Linked DNA regions of Homo sapiens: region 1 is linked to region 2. Evidence: fine-mapped expression QTL. Tissue or cell type: nucleus accumbens. Region 2 holds a variant in brackets; the other region holds the start of a gene. All regions are shown on one strand. Distances are from middle to middle.

Region 1 (11,107 bases), 100 kb after region 2:
TTTTTCTGGAAAACCTCTGTTGGGGAAAACTCAAGGGCCTCTCTCACTTCCTGGCCGCTCTCACTTCCAAAATCCAGGACTAAGAGAGAAGGAGGAGGAGTGACCGAAGTAGTGTTTAGTAGCTGTGTGACCTTGGAATTTAACCTCTCTGTGCCTCACTTTCCTCATCTCTAAAAATGGGGATAATTTTTGTTTGAACTTCCTACATCTGATGTGAAGAGTAAATGAGCTGAAATTTGAGATGCATGTAAAACAGCATTTTGTAAATGTGAGAAAATCTGTGGCTATTGCTCTAATTATAAACTCCCACTATATGCTGAGCACCACTCTGGACACCTCCTGTATCTTCCCCTAATTCTCGTAACAGAATGAGAGGGTGTGAGTCCTCCTCACTTCACAAATGAGACTCAGCCTCAGAAATTCAAGGTTTCCAGCCCAGGCTCCCCTCTTCAGAGCCAGACACAAATCCAGGTTTTCTCAACTCTAAAGCCCATGTTCTCTCCAACATTTAACTTCTCTGAGCCTCAGTTTCATCATCTGCAAAATAGGAGAACTAAAACATATTTTCAGCATTAAATAAAAAACTAAGAATTTATAGTACAGGCACAATGTATTAACTCACTGTGGCCAGAAAATAACTGGGAAAGAATATAATATTATGGCTGTGTTATAAATGAAGAAACCAAGGCCAGAAATAGAAAATGACTTGCCCAGCAAGTATGTGGAATGCGAATGCAGTTCTGATTCCAAAGCCTCAAAACTGGGAATGAAAGGACCATCTTCCTGGTCATCTACCTGCCCACAAATTAGGCAAATGCAAGAAAGGGGGCCTCTGACCTTACAGGTGTACTACCATCCCCCCCAAATATCTCTATCCCAGAGTAAGTCTGCTGTTGGCCACCGTGACACCTTTGTGCAAATTAGAATAAAAGGCCCTTCCTCAGGTGGATCCAGCTGTGCACCAGGGTGCACAGCTTGGCATGTGGAATGCAGGCTGGTTCAGCCTTACTTGCCTCCTCAAGCACCTTGTGCAGTGCACAGCTTGCACAACACTCTGTAGCAGCCTTGCCGAGAGCATCCCCAAACTCTTCCTTCTCAGAGCATCTTTAGAGTCACCTGTGAGTCCCCAGTGTTAAGAACTCCTCTTGGACAGGTGGTCAGTATCATTTAATTTGCTCTCAGGGGGCATAAGGCAGGAAAGGGGGTAAGGCTTCTCTGCAAACAAGTGGGGCTGGAGCTTATTTGTAAGCCTGTTTTATTAATAAGAGTCCCATCTGTGCCCACTAGCTAAGATCACTCCCCAAACCTCTAACTCGCAGGATGGCCATTCTTGGAAAACGTTGATGTAGTCCCTGGGGTAGCATCCCAACTTCCTGAGCCCCCAGCACTCTTCATAGCAAGAGCTAGGATCCCCAGTGGTGCTGGAAGCGGCAGCCATGCATTCCAGAGCTCATCCCACTCCTTTTCATCCCTGCTGACAGCATTTCTGAGCCAGAGGACATAATGTAAGAATTGTTCCTTCCAGCTCTGCTCTGCAGATTGACTCCAGCCTCCCCGAAGACAAGCTCACCAGTCACCAGGAACAGGTGCATGAAAACCAACCCTCTTAACACACAGACTCCTAGAACAGCAAAGCAGCAGTGGACAGATGTCATCAAGCTGGAAACCCAGGCCCCAAAGAGGGGTTGTCTCCTACTCCACACTGCCTGGTAAATGACAAATAACTGAACATCTCCAACTTCTTTCCTGATGTGATATCTGCAGTTTCGCAAGTTGTTAGTGATCCATGTATACAATACAACCTGCATTCATGGCGCCAGAATATCCATGTGGAAGAGGCTGAGAAGTGACAATCTGATGTTGGAGTGGACGCTGAGGACGCCTGTCTTGAATTGCCCAGCAAGCATGTTTTGAAGTTAGTCCACCAGCCTCTGTTTGGGGAGGCTCTCACAGGGAGTGACTGGTGAAGATGACCAGAATTGTCTTGAAGCTCCATGTGCATAACAAACCTACTGTGCTTGCTTTAACCCATGTCCCGTTTTGCACCGAGAATACTGCACTGGCAGTGAGCTGCACTTTTTTTTTTTCTAAATGGGAAATGGATTAAATGTGTGTCCCAGATCAATAAAGATGATGATGTTTTCTAAGGATACTTCTTATTCGCATTGTATATGAAATTGAGAAACACGTCTGTTCTTAATGTCAGAGAATCTAATAATGACAATCATATAAATATTGTTATATGGGAGAGGAGGCTTCAGGTATGCCAACAGAGATTTTGAGGGAGGCGAAGGTCCTCCAAAGAGCCAGGCCTGCCTCCTGGGAGGAGGCCCTGGTTCATCAACCACTTAAAGAGGCAGTGACATCTAGAGCCATATAAAGGGTCCCCACAAGGGAACTGTAGGGAACAAAGGGGTGGTTTGTATTGAATTATAACTAAGAAGAGCATGTAAGGCACAGCAGTTAGAAAGAAGTACAGACTCTTGCCTGTAATCCCAGCACTTTGCGTAGCCGAGGCTGGTGGATCGCTTGAGTCTAGGAGTTTGAGACCAGCCTGGGTGACATAGTGAAACCCCGTCTCTACTAAAAATATAAAAATTAGCCGGGTGTGGTGACAGGAGCTGATAGTCCCAGCTACTTGGGAGGCTGAGGCAGGAGGATGGCTTAAGCCTGGGAGGTGGAGGTTGCAGTGAGCCAAGATCGTGCCACTGCACTCCAGCCTGTGTTACAGAGCAAGACCCTATCTCTCTCTCTCTCTCACACACACACACACACACACACACATACACACACACACACACACACACACATAAAGGAGTACAGACTCTGCATTCTGGCTTTGCAGCAGCTGTGTAACCTTAGGCAAGTCACCTAACCCCGCTGAGTTTCCGTTTCTTCACCTGTCAAATAGGGATGCAAATAACAGCTGCCTCTCTGGTTGTTGTGGGCATTACATGGGACAAGCCTGACAAGCTCCTAGCATGGCCCCTAGCACATGGTAAGAGCTAAGCACTCAATAAAACACCTTCTTCATCAGGCTTAGCACCATCATAAGGGATTAGTTACATCCCAGGGGCTCTCCCTGTTATCTCTCCCTGCTTTCCATTCAGTTGTGCATGTTGGAGTTCAGATAGGAAGAGGATCCTTTGTGAAGCTCAAGCTTCAGACCTCTCCCAAGCCTCGTACCGAATCCTGTATTTGTAAATCTGTATTCATTTTCTTCAAGAGTCCCCCTCAAGTAGTAAATGCTCCCCGCCCCTTAACCCTTGGATCTGCTCCTGGGTTCATGTTCTTGCTAGAGAACAGAGCAGAGAGAAGCTGTCGGGACCCCTACTGAGAGAATAGAGACCTTGTGTTTTATCTCTTCTTGCCAGAGAGCTCTGCCTATGGCCTCGCAGACAGCAATCAGTCAAGGCTCAGCCACCCACACTTCCACCAAAGATGTTTCACAAAGCCTTACTCAACCTCTCACATCAATCCCAGAAGCTAGCGGTGTAATCGCTCCACTTACAGGGAAGCAAAACCCAAAGAGGAAAGGAGATTGGTCCAAGATCTTAAGATCCACAGGTCAGAAAGTGGCCTGGGGTGGGCTGAGTTTTGCAAAGGTGACCTCATCCTTCTTCCATCATTTATTGTGTTTTTCTCTTCCACGTCGAGAAAGTCTAATAGCTTAGATAATTCCACACTAATGAACTTGCTGTGTGTTAGCCCTGGGTCTCCTTGGAACCACTGGTGTCACCTTCTTACTCCATGTGCCCAAGGAGGGCTCCTTCTTCCAGGAGAAGCTCCCTGGTCTCAGCTGATCGGTGCTGGGTAATGCACCACTAAATTATACCTCCTCTTTACTTTTATTTTTGTGAACATTTAATACCTCACTGAGAGATGGTGAAGCAACTTCCTGGAGGTAGAAGCCTTATCTTACAAGCCCAGTGCCCTCTCATGATGCCCTGGCTGGGCTGGGCAGGGCACAGGTGAAGAACCCAAAAGGGACCTGTGGTACCATCTCCTTCCAGCCCCCACTAGTGTTGATTTCAGTTATGACTCCTGAACTCCACCTGCGGCCTTTGATCTTACAGGGGTTACTTCCTTGGGGAGACTGAAAACAGCTAGGGTTCTGGATTCTGACAAGCCGGGGACTGAATACCGACATAGTCACTTGCTGTGTGACTCTGAGCAAGTCACTTTCTCTCCCCGAGCCTTGGTTTTCTCCTCTGGAAAATGGGTCAAATAATCTTTCCCCTCTGAGACGCGTTGAAATGATTAAATAAAGTGATACACAAAAGGCAAATCCTCACCCGTAGTAAGCACTCATGAATCTTACCGTCCTCATCACGTAAGGACCTGGTGCAGAAAAAGACCAGTCACTGCTTATTGGGCATTTATTCTGTACAAGGTTTAGTTATAAGAGATTTACATATATTGCCTCATTGATATTCACCGCTGCCCTATGGGTGGGCACTATCATTTCTCCCATTTTTACACATGAGTAAACTGAAGTTCAGAGAGGTTAAGTGACTTGCACCATGTCACACAGCTTGGCACCCAGTAAGTGTTCATTGTGACTGTCGCGTGAAATGTGCAATACAGCACCAAGCACAGAATTAGAGCTCAGGAAAGAAAGAATTCTGCTAGGCACAGTGGTTCACGTCTGTAATCCCAGTATATGGGAGACCAAGGTGGGAGAATTGCTTGAGTCCAGGAGTTCCAGACCAGCCTGGACAACATAGTGAGACCCTATCTCTATTAAAAAAAAATTAGCTGGGCATGCACCTGTAGTTCTAGCCACTAGGGAGGCTGCGGAAGGAGGATCGCTTAAGTCCAGGAGTTGGAGGCTGCAGTGAGCTATGATCACATCACTGCACTCCAGCCTGGGTGACCGGCGAGAACCTGTCACTGAAACGAAACGAAATTATTCCCATGGAAGTGAGATCCAGAAGGCAGGGTGGGACTCAAGCTCTAAGGAGCAGCTGGGAAGAGGGAAGAGGCGTTAGGAGCGTTCACAGCGGTCCGCGGCAGGTGCAAGGGAGGGAAGGCGAGGGGGTCTGGTGGAGCCTGTCTACACTGGGACCTCAGCGGTCTCCCAACTTGGAGGCTTGGGAGAAGAGGATCCCGCCTGTGGTTGACCGGGGGCGCACAGGCGGAGGAGGCGTTACCTTGGGCGGGAGGGCGAAGACCACCGGCAGCAGCGCGAGCGGCGTGAACAGCAGCACCAGCAGCCGCCGCGCGCTCCACACCTTCTTGGCCGCTGCTGCCAGCGCCGCCATCAGCGCGATCGCCTGGCGGTACGGGCCGGCCCGGGACTGCCCCGCCTGGCCCCGGCGCCGGCTTAAAGCCTGGGGGAGGGTCGGGGAGGGGACTGCGCTGGGGAACCCGCCCTCTCCCTGCTCCTCCTGGAGGAAAAGGGTGGTGCCTGCGCCCCTGGGACCGGGTGAAAGAGGCCCGGGAACGTTGGAGAAAGTTAGGCACTAGAATTAGCAAACGGGACCCCAGCCGCAGGGCAGTGTGGCCTTGCCTCTTGGCTTCCCAGCAATGTGGCCTGGGGCAGCTGGCTTATCCTCTCCTCGCCTCTGTTTACTCGCCTGTGAGATGGCTGAGGATGACAAGGCGAGGATTAAGGCGCGTACTCCTATTACCCGGGTTCAAATCCTGGCACGGCCACTTACTCACTGCGTGGCCTTCAACAACAGCCTCTGAGCCTGAAAGTGGAGTGGTGATAATAATAGTCTACACCATGGAATACTATGCAGTCACAAAAAAGAAGGACATCATGTTTTTTGCGGGAACATGGATGGAGCTGGAGGCCATTATCCTTAGCAAACTAACACAGGAACAGAAAACCAAATGCCGCATGTTTTCACTTATAAGCGGGAGCTAAATGATGAGAACACATGGACACATAGAGGGGAACAACTGACACTGAAGCCTATGGGAGGCTGGAGGGTGGGAGGAGACAGAGGATCAGGAAAAATAACTAATGGGCACTAGGCTTAATACCTGGATGACGAAATAATCTGTGCAACAAATCCCCATGACACAAGTTTACCTATACAACAAATCTGCACATGTACCCCTGAACTTAAAAGTTAAATTTTTAAAAATAGTCTACACCAGACAAGAAGGTTGTTAGGAAGTTTAAATGAGATAACACATGTAATGTGATTAGCGCAGTGTCTGGCAGAGCAGGTGCTCAATGAGAGTTATTGCTGCTGATGAGTTATTCTTATTTTTGGGTTTTTTTTTCTTTTTTTTGAGATGTAGTCTCACTCTGTAACCCAGGCTGGGCTGGGGAGCAGTGGAGCGATCTCGGATCACTGCAACCTCTGCCTCCCGGGTTCAAGCAATTCTTCTGAGTAGCTGGGATTACAGGCGTGTGCCACCATATCTGGCTAATTTTTTTTTTTTTTTTTTTTGTATTTTTAGTAGAGATGGGGTTTCACCATTTTGGCCAGGCTGGTCTCGAACTCCTGGCCTCATGATCCGCCCATCTCGGGCCTCCCAAAGTTCTGGGATTACAGGTGTGCGTCACCACGCCCGGCCGTTATTCTTATTTTTTTTTAAGGGGGGTGAGTCACTTCTATTCACTTCTGATTATTCTCAGGTAACCATACAGGAGTGCAACTGTTGGGTTGCCCAGTATTTGCAATGCTTAGCTTTTTAAGACACTGTCAACCTGTCTTCCAAAGTGATTGTACTATTTTGCACTTCCATCAACAATGTATGAATCATCCAGTTTCTCCACATCTTTGCCAACATTTGGTGTTGTCACTGTTTATTTTATTTTAACCATTCTGACAGGGACATAGTAATAGCTCATTGTGGTTTTAATTTCTATTTCCCTAATGGCTAGTGATGTTTAACATCTTTTCACATGCTAATTTGCCATCTCTATATCCTCTTTGGTGAACTATCTTTTCCTGTCATTTGCCTGTTTTCTACTTGTATTATTTGGTTTTTTACAGTTGAGTTTTGAAAGTTCTTTGCAAATTCTAGATGTCAGTTCTTTGCCAGTTACGCTGTTTGCAAATATTTCTCCCCGTCTGTAGCTTGTCTTTTCAGCCTCTTAACTATATATCACCAAGCAAACATTTCTAATTTTGATGTAGTTAAATTTATCAAATTTTTCCTTTGGATGATCGGGTTAAGCTCTCTGCATAGCCTTAGACCCCAAAGAGTTTCTCGTATGTTTAGTTTGCTTTGTTCTCACAGAAGTGTCCAAGGAAGAGAATACAGTCATGGGTTCTTAGTTTCTGTTTCTGGTTGGGCCAGTAAAGCCCCTTCCTCATCCCTCTTTTCCACTCATCACTAGAGACAGAAACTAAAAACCATGGCTTCAGGCTGCTAAAAGCTTAAAACAAACAAACAAACAAAAAAAGAACAACAACAAAATAAGGCAGGTTGGACAAGCTTGTCAGAAGTTTTACAGTTTTGAAACACTGTATTCATTACAAAATAACTTCATTCTCTCCTCCCACAGCCTCTGGAAACCATCATTCTGCTTTCTGTCTCTATAAATTTGATTAATCTGGATAGCTCATACAAGCGGTATCATGGAATATTTATCCTTTTGTGATTAGCTTTGTGTCCTTAAGGCTCACCCATGTTGTAGCATGTGTCATAATTCCTTTTTAAGGCTGAATAATATTCCATTGTATGGATATACTATATCGTGTTTATCCATTCATTTGTTGATAGACATTGGGTTGTTTCTACCGTTTGGCTATTGTGAGTAATGCAGCTATAAACATAGGTGTACAAAGAGTATCTGTCTGAGTCCCTGCTTTCAGTTCTGGGTATATACCCAGAAGTGGAACTGCTGGATCATAAGGTAATTCTGCGCTTTTTGAAAATTATTATTGAGAAATGGCCATACTGTTTTTCACAGAGGCTGCACTATTTTACATTCCCACGATGTGCAAGGGTTCCAGTTTCACCACATCCTCACCAACACTTATTTTCTGTGATTTTTTTAAATAATAGCCATCCTAATAGGTGTGAAGTGGTATCCCACTGTGATTCTGATGTGCGTTTCTCTAATGATTATTGATGTTGAACATCTTTCCATGTGTTTATTGGCCATCTGCGTATCTTGTTTGGAGAAATGTCTATCCAGGGCCTTGGTCCATTTTTTTAGCATTTTGGTTTTTGTCACTTGCATGGCTTTTTTCAGTAATTGCTCTAGGTATTACATTGCATGTACATAACTTATAAGTTATAATCCACTGGTATTGCCATTTAACCAATTCCAGCAAAGCATAGAAACCTTACTTCATGCCCCTTTGCCTTACCCAGTTTAAAATACTTCTTTCAATATTTTCTCTACATACATTTAGAACCACATCAGTGTTTTAACTTTTCCTTCAGCTATCAGGTATAATTTTTTTTTCTTGTTGACATGGAGTTTTGCTCTTGTTGCCCAGACTAGAGTGCAATGGCGCCATCTCAGCTCACTGCAACCTCCGCCTTCCAGGTTCAAGTGATTCTCCTGCCTCAGCCTCCTGAGTAGCTGGGATTACAGGCACCCACCATCACACCCGGCTAATTTTTTGTATTTTTAGTAGAGACGGGTTTACACCATGTTGGCCAGGCTGGTCTCAAACTCTTGACCTCAGGTGATCCACCGGCCTAGGCAACACAAATTGTTGGGATTATAGGCATGAGCCACCATGCCTGGCCAAGAACTTCCTTTAATCATTCTTTGAGACCAGGTCTGCAGGCAACAAATTCTCTTAGTTTTCCAACATCTGAGAAGGTCTTGATTTCCCCTTGGTTCTTATTTTTGGTGGACATAGAATTCTGTTATTTTCTTTGAGCACTTGAGAAATGCTATGCACCTACTTTCTGGCCTCCATGGTCTCTGGTGAAAAATCTGATATCATTTGAGTTATTTCTTCTCCATAGGTAAGGTTCATTTCTCTTTCTCTTGAATAAATATTTTCCAAGATTTCTTTTTTTTGTCTTATGTTTTGAGAAGTTTGGCCATGATATGTCTTGGTGTGGATTTCCTTGGTTTACCCTAGCAATATTTGGAGTTCACTCAGCTTCTTGGGTCTGTAGATTTATAATATACACATACATATATACACATATATATACACACGTATATACACATATGTATACACATATATACACATATATACACATATATACACACACATATATACACATAGATATGTTCATTCATATATATATATACCAAATATACATATATGTATATATAAGCCAAAAGAGGTTTAATTAGCTCATGGTTATGCAGGCTTTACAGGAAGCATGGTGCTGGCATCTGCTCGGCTTCTGGGGAGGCCTCAGAGAGCCAACATGTATATATATGTGTGTGTGTGTGGTATATATATAATATATATTTTTATATAGTATATATTATATATACTATACAAAAATACAGATATACTACACAATAATATTCCATTGTATGGATATACCATATCATGTTTATCCATTCATTTGTTGATAGACATTGGGTTGTTTCTACCTTTCGGCTATTGTGAGTAATGCAGCTATAAACATGGGTGTACAAAGAGTATCTGTCTGAGTCCCTGCTTTTATACAAAAGAAAATAATATATATATACTATATATATATTTTATACAAAAGAAAATAGTATATATATGCCTTCAGTATATATAATATATAATACTGTATATACTATATATACTATACAGTATATATTATACTGTATATAATATATATACTGTACAGTATATATTATACTGTATATAATATATATACTGTACAGTATATTATATATACGTATATAATATACTACAGTATATATATACAGTATACATATATGTATATATGTATGTATATATGTATATATGTATACTACATATACTATATATACAGTATATATACATATACTACAGTATACTATATATACATATACTACAGTATACTATATATACATATATATTATATATACTGTACAGTCTATATTATACTGTATATAATATACCACACAGTCTATATTATACTGTATGTAATAGACTGTACAGTCTGTATTATATTGTATATAATATAGACTGCACAGTATATATAATACTGTATGTGATGTAGACTGTACAGTATATATTATACTGTATACTTATATAGACTGTACAGTATATATTATACTGTATATAATATACTATACAGTATATATTATACTGTATATGATATACTATACAGTATATATTATACTGTATATGATATACTATACAGTATATATTATACTGTATATGATATACTATACAGTATATATTATACTGTATATGATATACTATACAGTATATATTATACTGTATATGATATACTATACAGTATATATTATACTGTATATGATATACTATACAGTATATATTATACTGTATATGATATATACTATACAGTACATATATTATACTGTATATGATATATACTATACAGTACATATATTATACTGTATATGATATATACTATAGTGTATATATTATACTGTATATGATATATACTACCTATTATTATATATATAGCCAAATTTGGGAAGTTTTCAGCCATTATTTCTTTGAATAATTTTATGTCCCACTTTCTTTCTCCTCTCCTTGCATAATTTCAGTGATACAGATGTTAGCTCTTTTGCTGTAGTTCCCCCTGTCCCTGCAGCTCTATTTACCTTTTCAGTCTATTCTCTCTCTGTTGTTCACAGTGGGTAATTTCCATTGTTCCATGTCCCGGTTCACTGATCCTTCTGCCTTCTCCATTTGCTGTTGAACCCATCCGTTGTATAATATTCTTCAGTTATACAATTTTCATTTGATTCTTCTTTGTACCTTCTATTACTTTGCTAAGTCTTCTGTTTCTTTGCTGAGGTTTTCTACTTTTTTCGTTTGTTTCCAGTGTGACACATCACTGTCATCTTAATATTAAGCATCAAAAGTCAGTTTGACCAGCCTGGTCAACATGGCAAAACCTCATCTCTACTAACAAACCAACAAAAAAAGCTTTTGAGAAAAAGTTTGAAAAAAAACTTTTATCATGATCCGGGACATCATCAGAGAGCACTGAGCTTGTAAGATAGGGCTTCTACCTCCAGGAAGTAGCTGGGTGTGATGGCATGCTTGTAATCCCAGCTACT
Region 2 (11,107 bases):
TTTGGAACCAACCTGGGTTGGATTCTGCACTAACCCAGGTGCAGAAGGATAGCTTGCCACACCCCAAATGGTTCAAATGAATGCAGGAGAAACTCCCAAAGCTTTCAGAAAAGATGAAATAATGTGAAAGCAATGAGTGGGCCTGTACAATTTATGCTTTCCCAGAGGATCAGAGAGTGCCAGCCTCAAAACTTGCTGAGTGAGGGCCCGCAGCTTGCAAGAAAATGCTGGAAACAATGGTGGGGCATCACCGGGGCTCTGGAAGGCACAGAGAATGATATTGGAGGAAAAGCCTCAGAGACTGACTCCTCGGCCAGAGTCATTCAGAAAAGTCAGATTGAATGTTTTAGGAAAACCATCAGATTACTTCCCCTCCCTCCCTTCCTTCCTTCCTCCCTTCCTTCCTTCGTCCCTCCCTCTCTCTCTCATTCCTTCCTTTTTTCTTTCTTCCTTCCTTCCTTTCTTTTTCTTTCTTTCTTTCTTTCTTTCCTTCTTTCTTTTCTTTCTCTCTTTCTCTTTCTTTCTCTCTTTCTCTTTCCTTTCTTTCTTTCTTTCTTTCTTTCTTCGTTTCTTCCTTTTTTTTTTTTTGGAGTCTTGCTGGCTCAGGTTGGAGTGCAGTGGAGCAATCTCAATTCACTGCAAACTTTGCCTCCCAGGTTCAAGCGATTATCTCACCTCAGCCTCCTGAGTAGCTGGGATTACAGGCACACACCACCATGCCTGGCTAATTTTTGTATTTTCAGTAGAGATGGGGTTTCACCATGTTGTTGGCCAGGCTGGTCTTGAACTCCTGACCTCAGGTGATCCACCCACCTCGGCCTCCCAAAGTGCTGGGATTATAGATAGGCATGAGCCTCCATGCCCAGCCCCCTATTTTTCTTTTTATGTATACGCGAGAAAGATATGGCAAAATAAACCTATGTTAAATAATAAGTGAACTATTTTATACAAATACAATAAAAATTCTAAATGATAAGAAAGCATTGTGTCAAGGTTGAATTGGTAGCATTTTCTGCCCTAAGGATACATAAAGTAATGGTGTGACTTGCAATTGATGACTATCTGAGATTTGGTGAAAATGAGTAAATCAGGGAACATGCTTAGAACATTGCCTGACACATTTCTTTACTGTGACCTATGGTAAGAAATGCATTTTACAGGCCAGGCATGGTGGCTTATGCCTGTAATCCCAACACTTTGGGAGGCTGAGGTGAGAGGAATGCTTGAGCCCAGGAGTCTGAGACCAGCCTGAGCCACATAGTGGGACACCATCTCTAAAAAAAATATTAAAAATTAACTGGGTGGTGGTGGTGCATGCCTGTAGTCTCAGCTACTTGGAAGGCAGAGGTAGGTGAAGTGGGAGGCTCGTTTGAGCCAGGAGGTCAAGGTTACAGTGAGCTGTGATTGCACCACTGCACCACTGCATTCTGGCATGGGCAACAGAGTGAAACCCTGTCTCAAAAAAGGAAAGAAAAGAAATGCATTTTACAGTACCTTCAAAGCAGAGATTGTTTTGTAATTGAAGAAAATATTCAAAAACCATACACTCCCTTATTGCCTAAGATGTAATCTTATAATTTTCCAGTTGATTCTATTTCATTAAAAACACTATTTATGACTCCTTAAATTGATTAAATTGATTTTGTGCAGTCTGAAAAGCACTTTCTTAATATGTAATAAGTACTTGATAAATATAAACTGTTAATATTATTAGCTCGAAGTTTGACACTTTGATATGTTTTATGCAATGGACTTTTGTGTGAGACCTCACTACTAAAAATTAAAAATAAAAAGATCCGTGGCAAAAGAAAGGATCGAAAAACACAACTCTTGATCTGATAGTAATATATCCGATTATAAGTCGATAGTAAATATTTTCTATATCACTATTAAAATAGCAAATATTTCAGGCTTTGCAGGACATACAGTCTCTGTTGCAATTACTCAACTTTGCCTTTGTAGGGCAGCCACAGACAATATATTGACAAATGGCATGGCTGTGTTCTAAAAAAGCTTTATTTACAAAACCAAGAAGCCATTGGATTTGTCCTGAAGGCTATAGTTGGATGCCTCCTGATCAAGGCCATTCCAAAGTCCTCCTCCAGTCTGACATAGACAGATGTAAGCTATTAATAATAGCCACTCTTTATTAAATAATCTCTTATGTGCCATGGAGCTTACTAGGTACTTTAAGACAATACCACATTGTAAGACACAATAGCCTTTTAGGATTAGGAGGATCGATTCAATTTGTACAAATGTGGAAAATGAGGCTAGGACAAGCTGCCACTTGTGAAGGGTGACCTTGGATGCAAGTTATTTTAAGGTGTCTGGGTTTCAGCATCCTCAACTGCAATAGGAAGTGAAAATAGAAACCACTTCCTAGAGCTGTTGTGGGTATCCGATGAGTCCCTCTGCCCATGGTATGGGGCCCCATGGATGATTCAAGGGCTGTTTCTTGGAGGCAAGTCAAATTTCATCACAAGTCAAGGGTTTAACAGATTCTCCCCCTGCCCTCAAAACAATGACTCCCTTCCCTTTTCCCATCATCACACTTACATCATACTTGACCGTGAGCGTGATGGGCACAGTTGGCAACTTCTGAGCCCAGTCCACAGTAGCCTGTGCCAGGAGGAAGGCTACATGGTCTGTGGCCACCGCCACAGCCGTGGCCACGAGGAGCAGGGCAAGCAGCCCCAGCCTTAGAAGACAACTCAACAGCTCCTCCTGTGACAGCCTCAGCTGAGCCGCCTGGAGCAGCCAGGTGGGTGGAGGGGCCAGGAGGTGTGTAGCCTGGGCCTGTGCCAACCGCTGGGTCAGCTGTTGAGTGGCGTAGATATTGTCAAACCGCAGGTCTGTCAGGTAGCAATGGAGGTACCATGCCGACTCCACCAGGAGGCCCAACATAAACAGCCCTGTGACCACTCGCTGGGTCCCTAGCGCTGCTGCCCGGGCCAGGGACTCCAGGCCAGAGAAATCCTCCAGGACCTGCTGAGTGACCCTGAGCATGTGAAGGTAGAAGGCAGAGCCATTGTCCTGGGCCTCAAATGTCAGGCCCCGGCTGCCTGCCTGGCCTGTGGGGCCCAGAGCCCTGGATGCTGCATGCAGCTGGTGAGTGGTATTGAGGAGACTCTCCAGGGAGCCCTCGGTGACACACCTCAGCACCTGCCCGGCCGCACCCACGTTGGCCAGGACGTTGGGCACCACAGCAATGGCCAGGGTGGCAGTGCTGTAGGACAGGAGCAGCCGGCGGCCCTGCTCCATACCCAGGGTGGGCACGCTGAGTGCAAACAGGCAGCGGACTGGGGGTACCAGGCCCAGGCTCAGGAAGACCAGGAGGCCACAGACAGTGGCAACCATGGCTGAAGGTCCAGGAGGATAAAGCAGCAAGGATGCCAGCCAGTGATAAACCAGACCTGCAGCAGCAGCAGCCAGGGAGGCACACAGGAGGAGCTGGGTCAGCAGCTGGCCACAGCTGGCTGGAACAGGCTGGGAGAAGGCGTCCCAGGCAGCCTGCAGTGGGGCAAGGGCCTTCCAGAACCCCAAGTGCCAGGACCTCCACCTGCACACAAGGAAATTGAAGGGCATCTCTATCAGGAGGTGGGTGGGTGGGTGTCTGTCCACTGCCCCTGCCCCACATACCCATCACCAGGCTCTGCTAACAGACTCCACCCTTGTAGTTACCCAGGTGGACCAATCAGAGTAAGTCACTGTATACCCACGTGACACAAGCTGAACCAATCAGAGCCTTCCCCAGGATTACTCTCGCTGGAACTGTCAGGGAAGAGCCCAATTCCCATGCAGTACCTGAGGATGTGAGGATGAAAGTCTGCCCTGTTTGAGTCCATTATTACAGTTTTGTGAAGGCAACTGGCCCAAGAGAATGAAAGAGTCATGGAGCGAGAAGCACAGGTGAAAGAGAGAGAATGAGTAAGAGGAGAGAGAAGAAGAGAAACGATTTCACTTGAATTAATAGTCTTGGTGGCTTGCTGTATGATTCTGGACCTTCTATTCTTTCTGAACTTCAGGGTCTCCTCTATAATTTAGGGG[T/A]GAGGAGGGTGAACTAGTTGGCCTGTGAGGGACTTTTATATTCTATCATCCTTATATTTATTCATTCAACAAGTGTTTATCAAGCAACGACTTTGTGTTAACCATTGGAGAAACAGGAATGAAAAAAACAGAAGTCCCTACCTTCGTGGGGCTTGCACTATGTTAAGAGCGATGGCAGAGGAGTAGTAAGGAAAGCTTGGATTCTGAACACATTTTGTTGGCAGAGTCAACAAGATTTGCAGAGGCTGATTGGTTGTGGGGTGTGAGAGAAAGAGGGGAGTCAAGGATGACGAGGTGCTTTTGTGTCTGAGCAACTGGAAGCACCAAGGTGTCATTTCCTGAGATGAGAACTCTGTGGTCAAAACAGGTTTGAGTGGAGGGGGAGAGAGGAGGAATTCAGTTCAGAACTCTTAAATTTGAGATTCAGTTGAGCCATTCCGTGGAGCTTTTGACGACGTGGTTGGAAATAGAAGTCAGGAATTCAGAGGGGAGGTCAGGCTGGAGTTATAACATTGGGAGTCTGATTATTAGATGTCTCCCAACTTTATATCCCTACCTAAAGCCATGTGCACCATGAGATTCCTCAAGAGAGTGTGTCACTGGGGAGGAAAGACATCCAAGGACATGCCTCAAGGCGCTCCAAGGTTAGGGGCTCTTAGATAAGGAGGAACCAGCAAAAGAGACTGAGAAACCAATGTGGTGCTTAGGAAGCCAAATAAACAAAATGTTTCAAGGAGAAAGGAGTGATCAAGTACGTCAAATGCAGCCAACAGGTCAAGAATGATGAGGACTGAGCAATGCCTATTAGCCGCTTAGAGGTCACTGTTGACCTTGGCAGGGAGAGTTCGGTGGCTTTTGGGGCCAAAATCCAACTAGACTGGGTCCAGGAGAGACGGGAAGGAGAAGAATAGGAAACACAGATACAGACAACTCTTTCCGGTAATTTCTACACTAAAACAGCAGGGAGATGAAGCAGTGGCTGGTAGCTATGGGAAATTGGACCAAGAGAATTCATGTAAAGGGAGGAAATCTATAGCATGTTTGCAGGTGGGAGATCTCATCGAGAGGGGAGACATTGACAAAGGGGAGACTCCCTGGAGTGACACCTGTAGGGGTGGAGGCAGAGAGTGAGACTGAGAACATGCAAGGTGGGGCTGGTCTTAGAATAGAGCAGGGGTCGTTCATCCTTAATAGCAGGTGGGAAAGCAGAGGAAATAGGTACAGATGATGGCGAATGAACAGGCAGCGTGTATGCACCTGTGAAAAGTATCCTCTGATATACGCAGAGCAGAGTAATGTTAAGGGCATGACCTCTGGACTGCCTGGGCTCAAATTTCTGCTCCACCACTTGCCAGCTATGTGAACTTGGGTACATATCACAACCTTTCTGTGTCTCAGCTGTCTCATCTGTAAAATGGTGCAATAAAAGTATGCACCTCCTGGGGTCACTTTGTTTCTGGCACATGGTAAGTATCACATCAGCTATTACCTACCACTAGAGTCAACTCCACCGGAGCAGGGACTTTGTCCGTTTTGGTCACTGATATGTCCCAAGTGCCTACAATAGTGTCTGCCATGTTGTGAGTGCTCCAAAACTATTCATTAAGAGTAGCATGACCGATTGCTTCTGTTTGCTCAGGTTGGCAGGAAGCAAGGTCAGCAGAGAAGGTAAGATGCTGGCGGAGGTGATGGATGCTTGAAGAGGAAGAAGAAAGTACAAAATGGTTGCCCAGGAAAGTGGGAGAACAAACGAACTGGGGCAATAACATATGTGCTGGGCAACACTGAGGCCCACTTGAGGTTGGAGATCATACATTATCTTAAGTGAGAGCAGGCAGAAAGGTTATACGGGAATATGGTTATAAAGGGCAGGGAGGGTGGTGGGGAGGCTGTCACTGTGTTGGTTACAGGCAAAGCTGCTGACTTGCTCCACCATCAACAGCTTGAAGGATAAGCATGTGACTGGGTCTAGTTGATCCAAGTACCTCTGATCCCCTGGCCACCGTGACTGGTGCAGGGATTGCACCTGACCGGAGATGGACCAATAGAGCTTTCCTCAGGATTTTGCTGCAACGACAAAAAAACTGCCCTTTGTTGCCTTGAGAGCTAAGCTGGTAGGAAGATGCCTCAAGCCTTGGGGACCACCATGTAGTATGAGTCGGCCTGGGATGAAGGCAACACAAGGAAAACAGTGTTAGGAAACAGACAGAGAGTCCCAGTGGCCTTGTTGGAGGACCTGGATCCAGAAATGCCTGAAGCCGAAATCTATGCCGGACCACACACTAGGAGATGTCTGTTTTTCTACAGGCAGTGTAAGATCAATCTGTCACTTGCAACTCAATGAGTCCTGACTAATACAGAAACCTTTGTCACAGGGCTTCTGGGACAATAAAATGAAATAATCCATGTAAAGAAGTTTACACAGGGTCTGGCACAGAAGAGGGATCCTATAAAACTGCACCACTTGTTACTCTGATGATACTTATGTCAACGATGTAAATGTTTCACTCGAGTCTCCTCTGTGCCCAGGCTCTGTGCTGACCCCTGTGGACACAAAGATGAATTAAGTCCTGGTCCCACTAAAGGAGTTCACAGTCTAATTGAGGAGACTTAAATAGACCATTAGAGTTTAAGTTCATTAACAAAGAATTCTGAGCATAGTATGCCTGGGCCTGGACTGGGGTGGGATAGATGGAGAGTGACCCAGTTTTACCTGGGAGTCAGGAAGGCTCCCTGGAAGAGGTGACATTCCAGCTGGGGGTGGAAGGACAAGTGTCAGTTTGTGGGTGAAGAAGGGAGTTGGACATCCCTGACAGAAGGAACAGCGTGTGCAAAGGTCCTGTGCTCTGACCATCGGGAAATAGGGAGTTGGGAGAACCAGAACAGTGGGAAGCTGAGATGCAGTGAGGCCTGTGGGGCTGGAGTGAAGGTCACAACCTTGAAGCCCTAAAGGCTGAATCATATGCAAATGTGCCTTATTGTGGCCCACTCTGTGTGTGTGTGTGTGTGTGTAAGCTGCCCCCATTTGGAAATAAGGAAGTTTCACATTAAAATCTGGGTTTCCAGCTTTTCTTGAGAGATAAGAAGATCTGGGTTAGAGCTCCCACCTTTGCAACAGGTAGCTGGAGCTGAGTATCCACTACCCACCTTTGACAGGGGAGCAGCCCTGCAGACTGCATCCTGCTGATCAATGAACGGGTCCGTCTGCACACCCAGGTGGCCTTCCACAGGTGCAACCCCTTCCCAGCTCCCGAAGGCATTTGAATTTGGGACTAAACACCCCCTTCTACTATATAATTAATATTTGGAACACAGTAGCTTTTGGAATAATAGCTAATAATAAAAACAATTTTAAGGATTGAAAGCCAGTCCTAAGTCATATTGGATGACAATTCCTGCACGGGGTATTGAAAATGGCAAGGAAACTAGCTGCTGTTTAGTGAGTGCTTCCTCTGAGCCAAGCAGGTGCCAAGTACTAAGCATGTGTTTTCTCATTCAATTCTGGCAACAGTCTTGTAGATGTCATTATTACTTCCATTTCACAGATGGGGAACTGAGGCTCACAGAGAACTGAGGATTTGCCTAAGGTCACATAGCCAAGGAATGGCAGAGCTGAAGATTTGGGTTCATATCCATCACCCCCAATGGCTGACTGTTTTCTCACCTGTAGCCCTCAGTGTCCAAAGTCCCCAGACCTACCCGGTCTTGACAAGTTGCTCAGCTGCTCCTGGGTGGCCTGGCATGCTGTCCAAATGGCAGTGGTTTCAGGCGGGCGGTCGCTGGCAGCTGTGGCAGGTGGAGAGGAAGTGGGGGAATCGCTGGGACTTGGGAATCCCTGCCACTTCTGCTTTTCCACTCTTTAATGAAGCTCTCCTGGCTGCCTTGTCCCGCCCTTTTCGGGGCCCACCTCCCAGAGGGTTGGGCAAGCTGCCTCATCCTCTGCCCACAAGCAAGAGCGGGTGGAAGGTGTGGGAAGAGGAAAAGACAGCCTTTTCCAAGCGATGTCTCTAATCTTGGTAGCAGGAAGGTAGAATTAGCCCCATTTTACAGAGAAGGAAACTGAGGCACAGAGAAACCATACAGCTTCCCTTTCCCTCCCACTCCATAGTTGTGTGCCCCAAGGGGAGCCTGATCCCTGCTCTTGGGACTCACAGGTGATAATCAGACCCCTGCCAAGTACTGGGAGCAGTGGCTCTGGTCTCCTTCCCCAGCCCCCTTCCTGTCTTTAGCCTGACTTGTACCTCGCTTCAAATCTCAGCTCTGTCCCTCCCTAGCTATGAGACCTTGGGCAGGTGACCTCATATCTCTCTGCTGGTTTTCTCCCCTTAAAAAAAGTTTAATGAGGCTGGGCACAGTGGCTCACATCTGTAATCCCAGCACTCTGGGAGGCTGAGGGGGGTGGATCACCTGAGGTCAGGAGTTTGAGATCAGCCTGACCAACATGGTGAAACCCTGTCTCTACTAAAAATACAAAAATTATCTGGTTTGTGGTGGTGCATACCTGTAGTTCCAGATACTCGGGAGGCTGAGGCAGGAGAATCACTTGAACCTAGGAGACAAGGTTGCAGTGAGCTGAGATCACGTCACTGCACTCCAGCCTGGGCACAGAGCGAGACTCCGTCTCAAAAAAAAATAGTTAATGAAAATAACAGTTAACATTTATTGAGCACTTACTATGTATCAGGCATTCTTCTAAACAATTTCTCTTCAAATTCACTGAACACTTACTTTGAACATCCCTTTATGGTAAAGATGTTATTTTCATTCTTCAGCTCAGAAAACTGAGACTCAGAGAGCTACGTCGCCAACCACGCCACTCAGCTATTAATGGTACTGCCGTGATTTCTAACCAGCGGGCTGGCTTCAGGGTATACCAGTTAGCCACTGGGCTCTGCTGCTGTGGAGGGGATAATTCACAGACCTCGTGATTACTTCATAGTACAGCTGGTACTGCAAATAGTAGGTACTCAATAATGTAAATTCCCCACGCACACCCTCTGCAGTTAGTGCCCTGCAGGTCTGCTTTCAGGCTGTCCTGAAAGCCAGTTCCTACCTGGAATGCAGACACCTCTCCAGCATCTCTGTACCCCATCACTCCCAGCAGGCCTCCCCTGAGCCCCCCAGGCTCCCCCTCTGTGGGATGGACCAGTAGGGGCACAGCCACTTTCCCTTATAAGGACATGTTGCCTGGGTCACTCTCAGGCCTGAAGGGGAATGTCCTGCGGCCTGGATAGGGGAAGTGACGTTCTTATAGTTACACAGCGATTGAATGGAATACCTGTGGCCAGAACCCTCAGAGGGCCTAACACACTTCCCAGACAGTGCACCCCTGCAGGATGTTAGGCCAGCTACCAGGTCTGCAAAGAACTAAGTACATGAGGCAGACTAGCAGCAGCAAACTTGTGTACCCACAGGGGCCACGCTGCTTAGCTCATGAACAAAGCAGGATGAATGCAAATAGCAGTGAGCTACAAAGTGTAGCCCCCCCCACTCCCTCCTGTCTGGTCAGCTGTTATTCATCTCCAGTTGAGGGTCAAAGCCCCTTGAAAACGAGGCCCACCATGACCAGATTTTCCAGCTTTTCTAAAGACGCCAGTCATTCTCTTTTTAATGTAAATGTCAGCTTTTTTTTTTTTAAATGAAAGACTACCATGCAGACCAATCTTAACAGGTCTATGGGCCAAAGCCAGCATGAGGAGCATCAATTTTCACCTTCCGCAGGAGGCCTTAGTCAGGCCTGCTGTTAGCTGTCTGGCTGCAAGGAGATGTCTAGCTATTCCCCCCAAACTGCAGGGGCCCTGGACTGGAGGCAGCAGACCTGAACTCAAATGCCAGCTTTACCACTTACTGTGCTGTGTGACCTTGGGCAAGACACTGTCCCTCTCTGAAGTTGTGCATCCTCTGCTATAATGAGGGTAATACAGTACCTACTTTAAGGACTGTTTGAGGATTCAATGAGATAATGCATATAGAGTGTTCAGTAAACAATAGGTAAATGCTCATGCCCTGTTTCCTCCTACCTGGGATGACAGTTCTGCCAAGTGAGCCCCTGTCTGCTCACATCTGATTGTTGAGACTTCTGATGCTCACCAGGCCACCCTGGCCTGGATCCCATCACATAGCAAACTTCAGGGCATTGTGCTGGTCAGACAGAAAGAGTCCTAGAAGCCAGCCACCAGCATTTGCCCAGTTTCTGCACAGGCACTAGGGAGCTGGTTGGATAAGGACCAGGCAGTTTGTTTCCGGAAGGCCTCTGGTGGATATGTAAGATTTGGGAGCATGGGGGCATAGGGAGTGAACAGGCAAAATATATTTTTGGCTTTTCTCGGTACATGTAGGCAGTTACCTCTGTCTATATAAGGCTGGCCTGACCTCAAGGCCCACAACATCCGGAAGGGGCTTCTGAATCATCAAAAATAGAATCAGCTTTGTTGAGGGGAATTTGTGGGTGGAGGATTCAGAGCCATAAGACAGAAGAGGAAGAGGAAGAGGTAAGCCTTCAGATCTTCCTGGAGAGCCTGGTCTGGGATCAGAATCAGAGACCCATAGAGTATTATTTTCAGTAGAGATGGACTTTTGCCTTGTTGCCCAGGATGGTCTCAAACTCCTAGGCTCAAGTAATCTGCCCACCTCAGCCTCCCAAAGCGCTGGGATTACAGGCGTGAGCTACTGTGCCCAGCTGCACAGAATAATTAGAGTCACTGAATTCTTTAGCCTTCTTCAACGTTGCCACTGTCCAGATAGTTTGAGAATACAGAGAAGCAGCCAAAATCTTCCTATATTGCTGGTGCTATCCAATAGCAACAGTATGTGAGCCACCAACTCGAACCGTATGCATAATTTAAACTTTTCTGGTAACCCTACTCAAAGTCCACTGATTCAAATGTTAGTCTCATCTAAAAACACCCTCACAGAAATATCCAGAATAATGCTTGACCAAATATCTGGGCACTATGGCCCAGTCAAGTTGATATATAACATTTTTTAAATTTAAAAAATCGAATTTTTAAAAACAGAAATCAATTTTAATAAAATATTTTAGTCAATGTAACATATC

Alleles and levels. Positions count from the first base shown, and alleles are read on the strand shown. Sizes are in standard deviations (SD) of each study's normalised expression.
With allele T in place of A in region 2, the expression in nucleus accumbens of the gene that starts at base 5,302 in region 1 is lower (moderate effect, 0.54 SD a copy in GTEx).

Evidence for each region. PIP is the estimated chance that this variant, and not a neighbour inherited with it, causes the effect. A credible set is the group of variants that fine-mapping cannot tell apart.
Region 1: SLC13A3 starts here. The variant in region 2 is the best candidate, but not a certain one, in a credible set for the expression of SLC13A3 in nucleus accumbens (GTEx, PIP 0.72).

Annotation. Positions count from the first base shown.
Region 1 is chr20:46,646,158-46,657,264 of GRCh38, forward strand. It overlaps SLC13A3 (solute carrier family 13 member 3), which reads right to left and starts at 5,302. Exons shown (of 13, transcript NM_022829.6): 1 at 5,154-5,302. The coding sequence starts at 5,264.
Region 2 is chr20:46,542,768-46,553,874 of GRCh38, forward strand. OCSTAMP (osteoclast stimulatory transmembrane protein) reads right to left here and starts at 7,887. Exons shown (of 3, transcript NM_080721.3): 1 at 7,750-7,887; 2 at 2,560-3,562. The coding sequence starts at 7,793. RefSeq lists enhancers at 2,193-3,044, 2,251-2,320, 10,347-10,546. The variant T/A (reference allele first, on the strand shown) is at 4,051.